Regions from separate parts of the Homo sapiens genome. Here region 2 is linked to region 1. The links come from fine-mapping of genetic effects on gene expression. A gene starts in region 1. The other region holds a variant in brackets. All regions are shown on one strand. Distances are between the middles of the regions.

What was found. PIP is the estimated chance that this variant, and not a neighbour inherited with it, causes the effect.
Region 2: its variant is the best candidate, but not a certain one, in a credible set for the expression of RASL10A in whole blood (TOPMed, PIP 0.69).

Annotation. Positions count from the first base shown.
Region 1 is chr22:29,313,492-29,318,862 of GRCh38, forward strand. RASL10A (RAS like family 10 member A) reads right to left here and starts at 2,206. Exons shown (of 3, transcript NM_006477.5): 1 at 1,537-2,206; 2 at 372-496; 3 at 1-77. The coding sequence starts at 1,755. RefSeq lists enhancers at 593-1,397, 1,398-2,202.
Region 2 is chr22:29,286,937-29,292,307 of GRCh38, forward strand. It overlaps EWSR1 (EWS RNA binding protein 1), which reads left to right. Exons shown (of 17, transcript NM_005243.4): 7 at 1-198; 8 at 1,670-1,850; 9 at 4,626-4,663; 10 at 5,201-5,233. Among named protein-coding and RNA genes, the nearest start is that of GAS2L1, 17 kb to the right of the region's middle. The variant T/A (reference allele first, on the strand shown) is at 2,829.

The DNA of each region.
Region 1 (5,371 bases):
GCGGTCCGAAGCGCAGCCGCTGCCTGTCCCGCTTGTTGCCTACCACGAGGATGGGCGCTTCGGGCGCGCCCGCCGGCCTGGGGGCCGAATGGAGATGAGAGACGCGGGGACCCCACGGCCGGAGAATTCCCCCAGTGGGTATACACACGCAGGCGCATTCCCTTCCTACGGCCAGAGACACCGCCCCCCCCGCCGCCCCAACGAAACCCCAGGCCCATGTGGGCCAAAGAGCACATACAGCTTAAGACCTTCCCACGGGCGAAGGCCTAAGACCCGGCCCACGACGTTGGGAGACCCTACACACTCTCCTCAGGCAAAGGCCCTGCCAGACCTGTCCTAGCTCCCCACCGCCAGAACTGCCGGGCCCCTACCTGGTCTCCGCGATGCGCTGCCGCAGGGCCTTCACGTAGTCGAAACTGTCCGGGCTGCAGATGTCGTAGACGAGCACGAAGGCGTCCGTGTCCTGCAAGCTCCAGTCCTTAGCGTCTGGCCACTCCTGGGGACAGGAGGCCAGGGTTTGCGGAAGCCTCCTTTCCACTCTTCCGCTCTCGAACCCTCTGCAGGGGCCTGGACGCTAATCCTCAGGCCAACATCACCCCCATACAGACCTCTGTGCCCCTCCCCCAAGCTTTCCGGGCCGTCTCCTCATGACCACCAGGGTAAAATTTTCCAAATCGTGCCTGGAGCCTGTCAGCCAGCCTCCTTCATCCTTGGTCTCCCCTCTGTTTACCCCGAATCTTCCTCTTTTCAGCTTTCCCCAACTCGGCTCAGGCCGCTCTCCTCCCTAGATGCTCTCGGTGCTTACCACGGCCTCTAAGACTAATTCCAAAGCCCTTGGCCCGAGTCCCGTGGTCCACCACGCCCCCAGATTGTCAGCTGTAACCGTTTATGACCGTAGCGTAAGCACCTGCTGGTCTTTCCACCTGGTATGTTTTTGCCACTTCCTTTACTCAGAACTTCACTCGGTCTTCCAGGTTCAGCTCAAATGCCACTCCCTCCAGGAAGCCCTGCTTAATCCTGCCTGCTCTTTCCTCTTCACTGCTCTAGGGTCGGAGGTCTGTCCTTTACTTTGCACAAATTACTAAACGAGTCTTCGCTCCAGGGGACAAAAATGATAGGGCAGAGAATGAACCCCTCCACCAGCCCCCGTAGAAAGTACACCCCTGCTCCTGACCCCAGTCTCTCCCATTGTAGCTCTGCTCAAGGCCCCAAACACAAAACGCCACACTCTCGGGAAGGCACCGTTATGCACCACCAAGAGCTGCTCCACACCCCCAGCCGAGGCAGGCAAAGGTGGAGGCGCTCACAGGAGCAAGGGAACGCCCCTGGGCAAAATCGCCCGGCCTCCAGCCTGGGCTTGGGCGTCTCCAGGTCGGCGGGAAGGGCTGAAACGCAAGTATCCCAGGACGCACACACATCCCTCCATCCCGGAGCACAGCCAGGCGCCCGAGGCCTCCACGCGGACACGCACGTGTGCACCGAGCACGCACACCCCTCACACTGTCACACGCCCCTGCCCGCTCCTCGAGCCGCTACCTCCGGACCCCCGGGGCTCGAGCCGGGGCCAGCGACGTCGCCGTCGCGGATGCTCAAGTCGTAGACGGCGCCGTCGAGCAGCACCGCGGGTCGGTAGAGGCGCGGCCCGTCCGTGGGCCGGTGGCGCTCGGGGTAGTCACCGAACAGGAACTGGCGGATGATGGCCGTCTTGCCCACGCCCGGGGCGCCTAGAACGGCCACCCGCAGGCTACCCCCCATGGCCGGCCGGCGCTGTCGCTCCCCGCGCTGGAAAGCCTCATGGGCCGGCGCCGCACCGTGCGCCCCCAGGCCGTGCGCCCCGCGCGCCCTGCCCGGTGCGCCACGGCCCCGTCGCGCTTCTCGTCGCCCCTCGGAGCACCGAGACCGGAGAGGGCAGGCCCGAGGCAGGAGCTGGCGGCGGGAGGGCAGACAGACAGCCGAGTGGGCAGACAGGTGGCGGGCGCGCGAGCGGCTCGGGCGGGTGCCGAAGCTCGAGAGAGAGCAGAGCCGGAGCGGCGCTCAGACACCGCCTCCGCCCCGCAGCGCCAACCCAGGCGCCGGCGGACGCGCGAGGCGCCGAAGTCCGCCCCTCTCGCGGCGCGGGTCCCGCAGCGGTGCGGGGCGCGGGGGGCAGCGCTGCCTCCCGGAGCCTCTGTGCCTCTATCCTTCTCTCGCTTCCGCGCCTGGAGTCGCCGCCCCAGCCGCCGGCGCGAGCGAGCGGGGCCTCCCGGAGGCGGCGATGAGGTAACCGCCCGCCCCTCCCACCTTCCCCCACCGCCCAGGACGCCCCTCCCAGGAAGGGTCGCAGGAAGGTGACTGGGGGACAGAGATCCCGGAGAGGGCCTACCCCTTCCTTACCTCCTCCGCGTGTCCCGCTCCTCTCACCCGCTCCAAAATAGAAGCCCCTTCCCACCCACTGCCGCGGCCGCTCTTCCAAACACTGCTCGCCCCCACGCTGGCTCCCGACAAGCCCCGGCCCCCGGAGTCAGGCCGCCCGGGGTCCGAATTGGGGGGGGCGGCTGTGTGACCTTGGGCGAATCGCCGCACTGCGCTGGGTCTGCGCTCCGCATCCATCACAGGCAGACTCCTCAAGAGGCTCCAACCTTTTCTTGAGAGCCTACTATGTGCCAGGCCCATTACCTACGTGATTCTCGAACCTACAGCCTCAGCCTGGCATCGCTGGTTGAGAGAAGAGGAAACAGGCCCGAGAGGGGAATCTGCAAGGTTAGAAGGGCAGTGGGGGGGCCCTTGAAGTCTCCTTTGAAGTCCCTCCTACCTTCCTCCTGCCCACGGGGGTAAATGGCCCACACTAGACAATATTCAAACAGCCGTCCTCGAGGGGAAGTGGGGACAGAGGGTGCCGAGACCACAGCAGCTTAGCCCCAGATCCCTGTCCCAGCAAGGCTGGAGGTGACTAAATAAAGATCCAGAAATTGGCCCACTCCACCTCCATCACTACTAAGGTCACCTTTCCTGCGTGAGTTGCAACCCGTAGCGCCCCTCAAAGGGATGCAACCTCCAAAACAGGCGCCCAGAGCCCAAGTTCCCCCTCCCTCGAGCTAGTGGAGAAGCTCCTGCCCCATCACAGCTTGGAAAGCCTGGGTTAGCCCAGCCCCCCCATCCTCCGCCTCTGCTCTCCTCCCCGCTGTGTGGGGGCTCCCACGTCTCTGACCTGCACATGGCAATGCTCAAGAAATGGCGGCAATGCTCAAGAAATGGCCGCAATGCACAGATCTCTGCACTGACTAAGGAGTTCATTTATTTATCCCCTCAACAAATATTCCAAATCTTATTGCTTGTCAGGAGGCTGAGATAGATTTAAAAAACAGAAAACAGGAAAAAAAAAAAAAGTTCTGCTTTGGGAGAGAAGGTTCTAGAACACATGGGATCTAGGGACTGTCAAAGCACAGACAATGTGCCCACACCAGCCCAGGGGAAGTAGAGGAGCTAAATCCTGAAGGGGGAGGAGGCACATCCTCCAGGGAGCCTGTATAATGACAACCAGAAAGTGTCTCCAGAACAATGGCTGTGCTTTCATCCTCCCATGCTAGATCGGGGGCTGGGGTCCGCTTTCACTCCTCTCCTCAGCCACTAGGAAGCTCAGAACCACCTCTGTCTAGTGTTCCAGGTCTTCTAGCTCAGTGAGTGGGGACTGCTGGCTTCATCTTTCTTTCCTACCATGATTTTTCCCTTCACTTGATGTCCTCTTTCACGTTGTAACTTTTCAGACTTCTGGGTTTTGTTGTTTGAGACAAGGTCTTGCTCTGTCACCCAAGCTGGAGTGCAGTGGTGTGATCTTAGCTCACTGCATCCTCAACCTCCTGGGTTCAAGTGATCCTCCTTGCCTCAGTCTCTCAAATAGCTGGGACTGCAGGTGTGTACTACGACATCCAGCTGATTTATTTTTATTTTTTGTAGAGGTGGAATCTCACTATGTTGCCCAGGCTGGTCTTGAACTCCTGGCTTAAGCAATCCTCCCTCCTCAGCCTCCAAAAGTGCGAGGATTACAGGCGTGAGCCACCACATCTGGCCAAACTTCTGGGTTTTTGACTTTTCAGGCTTCTGGGTTTTGTGAGCTGCTTCAATTCCTTCGGGGAACAAGGCAAGGAGTAAATAACAAGGCACTCAGCAACACAACAACAAAACCCAGAAGTCTGAAAAGCTGACACCAGGACGGTCTTTTGTTTGTTTGTTTTGAGATGGAGTCTCGGTCTGTCACCCAGGCTGGAGTGCAGTGGTGCGATCTTGGCTCACTGCAACCTCCACCTCCTGGGTTCAAGCAATTCTCCTGTCTCAGCCTCTAGAGTAGCTGGGACTACAGGCACATGCCACCATGCCCGGCTAATTTTTGTGTTTTTTAGTAGAGACGGGGTTTCACCATATTGGTCAGGCTGGTCTCGAACTGCTGACCTCAGGTGATCCACCCGCCTCAGCCTCCCAAAGTGCTGGGGTTTCAGGCATGAGCCACTGCGCCCGGCCAGGACGGTCTTTTTTAAGGTGTTCTCAATGCTAGGCGCACTCCCGCCCACCCCTGGGTATTCTTTCTCTGAAAAACTTTCCTTGCTTCTCCTTCCGACACTGCAAACAGAGCTGTGTGTGAGGCGTCTCTGGCTCCCAGTATGTGTTTTTGGATGGCGAGGGGAAGGGGCACTGTGGACTGGGAACGTCCTGAGGCTCCCATGAAGCCCTGCAAACGTGCCATGTTCCCTAGGAGACTCTCACAGCAGCGTTCCTAGCAGCAGTGCCCATTTATCAAGGGCCTGCGATGTGCCAAGCCTGACCCACAGCCTCATGCTCACTAAGGCTCCCTGGGACGCCATGATTGGGCCACAGTTGCCTAGCAGGAAAATGGCAGCACAGGGGCCGGAACCCAGGCCCTTGGGCTCCAGAGCCTGGCTGAGAAGCCTGGCTTCATCTGGACCCAGAGGGTTCTCAGGAAGTACTCAACTGAAGCTCAGCCCCCAGTGACCACTCAGCCCCCTGTCGGGAGGGACTTGGGGAGGCCTCTAGGTCCCGTGGAGCCCCCCATCCACAGGGGCTGAAATGAGCTCTAATGGGAGTGTGCAGCCCTGTGCCAGGCTTCCTAAAGACCAGCAGGCTGGGGGGCTGAAGCTGCCTGTCTGCCTGGGATGTGGATTTCAGGGTTCTCTCATCAGTCCCCTCATTCCTTCCCCAAGGAAAGGCTGTAGGCCTCCTGCCTGCTGCCCCCCTCCAATCCCTATTCCCCAGGGGCCTCCTGGGCACTCCTTGAATGCCCCTATCCAGGGCTCCAGGGACCACCTGCCAACTATGCATGCATCTTCTCCTTCAGCAGAGGGGACTGGCACTAGGCACACAGTGGCCAAGGTGGTCCTGC
Region 2 (5,371 bases), 27 kb before region 1:
AGCCGACTAGTTATGATCAGAGCAGTTACTCTCAGCAGAACACCTATGGGCAACCGAGCAGCTATGGACAGCAGAGTAGCTATGGTCAACAAAGCAGCTATGGGCAGCAGCCTCCCACTAGTTACCCACCCCAAACTGGATCCTACAGCCAAGCTCCAAGTCAATATAGCCAACAGAGCAGCAGCTACGGGCAGCAGAGTGAGTTGCTAAGAGAGAAAACCAAATAAGAATGAATGTGTTTAGAGTTTTTTTGTGGGGTTGATTTTTTTTGTTGGTTTGTTTTTCTTTTGAGATGGAGTTTCACTCTTGGGGCTGAGGCTGGAGTACAGTGGTGCCATCTCAGCTCACTGCAGCCTCCGCCTCCTGGTTCAAGCAATTCTCCTGCCCCAGCCTCCCGAGTAGCTGAGATGATAGGCGCCTGCCACTATGCCCAGCTATTTTTTGTATTTTTCGTAGAGACGGGGTTTCACCATGTTGGTCAGGCTGGTCTCGAACTCCTGACCTCAGGTGATCCTCCCGCCTCAGCCACCCAGAGTGTTGGGATTACAGTCATGAGCCACTGCGCCCAGCCACGTTTGGAGTTTTTGAACAGGGGGAATACTCTTTGCCATTGTTTGCTTTTGGAATCCAGGACACATCTTTAGGGCATGGCATTCCAGCTAACATCTTGGATGCCCCAGTGAAGATTTCAGTGCTTTTTTCCAATTTGTTTTTAGTATGCCTTGGCAAAAAAGAAAAGAGATACTAATTGATCAGAAAAAATGTTTTAGACTGCTAGCCCTGCTGTCTTTGGGGAAGTTGTATGCAGTGAGTAAATTCAACATCGTTTTTGGCCTCCCTATCAGTCATTAATGTAAAGTGGGGAGGCAGCTATTGCAGGCCACTATGATTTTGATAGTCAAGTAAAAGCTATGTTTTTTTGTTGCTGTTTGTTTATATCCATTAAGGGGAAAAATGGCCAGGCATGGTGGCTCACACCTGTAATCCCAGCACTTTGGGGGAGGCCAAGGCAGGAGGATCACTTGAGACCAGGAGTTTGAGACCACCCTGGGCAACATAGTGAGACCCTGTCTTTTTAAAGATAAATAAAGATTCTTTAAGAAAATAGAAAAGGAAAGGGGGAAAAATAATCCTCCTCACAGAATATTTGCAGTTCTTCTGTATGGAGAGAGGTAACCAAAACACATAATTATCTTCAGAATTTAGGATCATTGCTCTTTTTAAATTACATTCTATCCACGGGGATTTCTCAACAACTCAAAGGAGTAGTGTTGATTTATGGAGCTCAGCCCCTAGCAGTGTGCTAAAGCCCTAAGAAACCTGGCTCTGTTTTCATTTCTTGAGTTTAGCTCAAAAGAAGCTGCTTTTGGAGACATCTTAGGATATAGAACCCTATAAACTATATGTTAGCCAGAGGGCTTTTTTTGTTGTTGTTATTTAGAAGAGGTTTATTATAGGCTAACTATATAAGGTTATTTCAGCTGTGATGATCCAGCAGTTTTGTTGAACTTAAAAGAGCCTACCTATTAAGGATGCTTTATCGTGATGTAAAGAAGATGGTGCCTTGGTTAGTGCCTTGGAATTGAGGATTTTGTGATTCCAGGAGAAAGTACATCAGGCAGTGGTGTAAATGCTGGTCCATGGCTTACAGATGTGACTCTTTCCTCAGGTTCATTCCGACAGGACCACCCCAGTAGCATGGGTGTTTATGGGCAGGAGTCTGGAGGATTTTCCGGACCAGGAGAGAACCGGAGCATGAGTGGCCCTGATAACCGGGGCAGGGGAAGAGGGGGATTTGATCGTGGAGGCATGAGCAGAGGTGGGCGGGGAGGAGGACGCGGTGGAATGGGGTAAGAGCAAACCTTTTCTCCTTTTACCTAATTTTGTTTCATCCATAGGATTTTCAGTGGAAAGAAGGGACTGAAAGACATAAGAAATTAATTTCTGCATTTCCATGGACAATCTGTTGAGCTCAAGCCATCTTCTAAAACATGGAAATGTCATCTTTGTGGCATATATTAAGTGGCAGTTTATTTTCTTTCCCTGCCAGTATACTTCGTTGGGTCGGGGAGAACAAAGAATGGTTTTGAAACCAGAGCTTTCAGTTCCCTTCATGGTTTCCAGAGGTGAGAAGCCTCTGTGGGTAGTAGATTTGGGATGGAACACACACAACCCTTCTAATGACCCTAAGTTGTTAACTAACTGCCTTTGAATGGTTGTCTTGAAATACCTGGTGTATATACTGCAGAAAAGGAATGCAGCTGTTTTCCACAGTGTTTGTCCCCAACTTCTGTTTGTACTCAGAATCGTTGAACATATGAAGATTTTGGTCCCATAATCCTTAAACTATAGCCTGAGGTGCACCTGATTACATAGAGTTTGGATGGAGCAAAGAAAAATCCAATAGCATTTTGCAGAGTAATGTATATAATTATGGGCTCACTTCCTACTGGAGATGTTGAAAGTCTAAATCGGTTTGACCATTTTGATTGATGGCACAATCTGGTTTAGAAAACTTTGTTTAGATCAATGACATAACCCTGCTGCCTCTGCCTGCCCTTCCCCTCCCTTCTCCCATCCCCTTTTCCCTATCTGGTGTCTGTACTTTGATGAAGGTGAGCTATAATATTGGTGGTTAACATAATCCAGAAGGCTTAGTTCTGTGTGTGTTCTGTCCCTATATAAACTGGTAAAGAAAAAAAAAAGTTATGCAGAATGTTAGATATTTACATTTGATACGGTGTGCCACTATTCAAGGAAAAATTAAATAGCATTTTTTAAAAAACAGAATGAACTTCAAAATTAAAGTTGATTTTTAACTTCCATAT[T/A]AGCAAATACTCTTCACTACTGAAAGACAGTACTATTTTGCATATTCTGCATAACTTTAAGAAAGTCTTTAGTGAAATCTTTATTGGAAGAAAGTCATTTGACAACAGGCAAAAATTTAATGATTCGGTATGAAGTAAAATCAATCTTCTGATTTGGAAAATACTCTATTATAAAGGTTTCACTTCTTTTTGGATGTTTTAAAATAGACATAGACACTTGAAAGTACTATCATCACGTCTCAAATCACCTAGAATTCCTAGTATTTTTAAATTGCAAATACAATTTCAAGTTTATTTAAATACTCCAGAAGTTATAATCCTACTAATTGTGCTAGACTTTGCTAGTAGAGGGGGCCCCTCTTTCTGGATGAGAAGTCTCTCTTGCAGCCATAGAAGAGACCATGGCTTTCCCCATAGGTTTTTCAACAGACTGTGAAGCAGTCTGTCGGATCCTGTGGGGATAGACGGGCATTTCCCTCGTTGCCCCCCTTTTTATTGTGGTGTGGTGATGGTTTTCAGTGTCTTGTACAGGTAAGGCACTCAATGTTGTTAACATGCCCTTTTTCATTGCCTCAGTATTTTGATATTTTCATTGGCTGTTAAACGTGGAAACTTTTTAACATGCTTTGTCGCATTTATATGCTACAGGTTACAAAGTGAGAGCCTTGTATACACTTCAATACTTAAAAAGTACCCGTACTCAGTACTCAGCCGGCAGCATAATGAAAAGTGGGACTAGACACGGTGTCCATATGGAGAGGAAAAATATACATAGAATATTTTTAACAAAATGTATTCATTGTATAAATGGAATCCTTCTGTAACTTTGGTAACTGCATACTTGTTGTTTGGTAATGAACCAGAGGAGGTATAATACTCTAGAATTGTGTAACATTAAAGTGTAAACTTTTGTGTTTAAAGAGAGAGAACATTTTATGGTGTGTACTTTTAAAAAGGAAACAAAGCTGCATGCAACAGCTTGAAATTGTATATTCAGGTATTAAAGGTGCAATACTGGTTAGAAAAAACTCAGGGCCTCCCACTGGGGAGCTGCCTTTATTTAATTTTAAAGAAAACAAAATCTAACCCAAAAAGTCCAATTCATATTTCCCTCTCCCCTCTTTAAGTAATTTTACATGGCCATAGTCATTATTCTAACTGATATGTCTATAAAGTTGCACCCCCAGTCCGTTGAGCCTTGGTATTTGTTGTAAATTCTCCTTTCACAGCGATTGTTAAATCTATTCGTGCCCTGAGATGTATGGCTTTATGCTGAAGATTGGCTGGATGCGTCCTCTGATGTGTGTTGTAGGAATTTAATGTGGTTGTCTCCTGCTTTTATTATACTGTGACTTGTTAGGAAACCCTGGGCCTCATTTGGCTCTCCCTTGGGAGAGGTTGAGGGTGCACCTTTATGAACATGGAAAGGTTTATCACAGCAGTTAACCCCCACTTGCTCCTCCCCTCTATACCAAGCTCTTCTGGTTTTTCACCTGACGGGGTGGGTGTTTGGGATCTATTTTTTCTTGCTAATTTGCCAAGTATTGCACTATTAATACCAGCCCCCGAAATGAAAGGAACCAACCACACTGGTGTGTACAATCAGACAAGCAAGGTTGTATATTGAGGAAATTTGAGCAAGCTGCCCTGAAGAAAGGCATAGTGACAAGATGAGAGAGATGCATTGTTTGGAGATGTGTTTAGCCAGTGCCCTTCTTCCCCACGAGCCCCCCCAAGGCTCAGAGCGGTACTGGCTTTTAAAGGGAAAGGCCTTCATTTCTTCGTTTATCCCCCCAGCAGCGCTGGAGAGCGAGGTGGCTTCAATAAGCCTGGTGGTAAGTTTTTGAGTATTACCATAGATAGTGTTTAAAAAAAAATGCAGTCAGTTTTTAGAAAACTATAATTTTTTTATTAGTTTCATAAGTGGTTTAAAAATGATCTATACAAAAGAGACTAATGGGTACTGCCGGCATTGTCTTAGGGGTTAATAAGGTTAACCTATGGTTACAAAACAAAGGGTAACTTGAAGTATTGAGTAACTGCTTCTGTAATATGGGGGAGAATAAATTTTTAAATTTGGTTTATTTAGAGGAAAAATTTTGACTTAAATTTAACACTGATTTGGCACATAAGCATTGAGAGTGTATTTGGTTAATGGTTTAGAAGCAAACCAGCAAAGGAAAAAAGCAAACCCTAGCAAACCTTTCACAAATGTTAAAGAGACACTGCTCCATTTTAGCAGTGCGGGTCATTTTGAGTTTAATGAATCCCCATCAAATGGTGGTATAGTAGATAGCTATGTGTGTTTGTAAGGTTTGTAGCTTGCAAGACGTGCACTAATAATATTTTATATGATCTTTCCTGGTTGGCAGGACCCATGGATGAAGGACCAGATCTTGATCTAGGTAATTTTGAATTCTAGTTGTGCTTCATATCGTGCTTTGTAAATTAATGGTACAGAGGTAAATGCATGCGTAGAGTTCAGCAGCCTTATAGACCAGTGTGATATTCTTGCTGTCAAGGACAGTTTGGGAAATCCTATG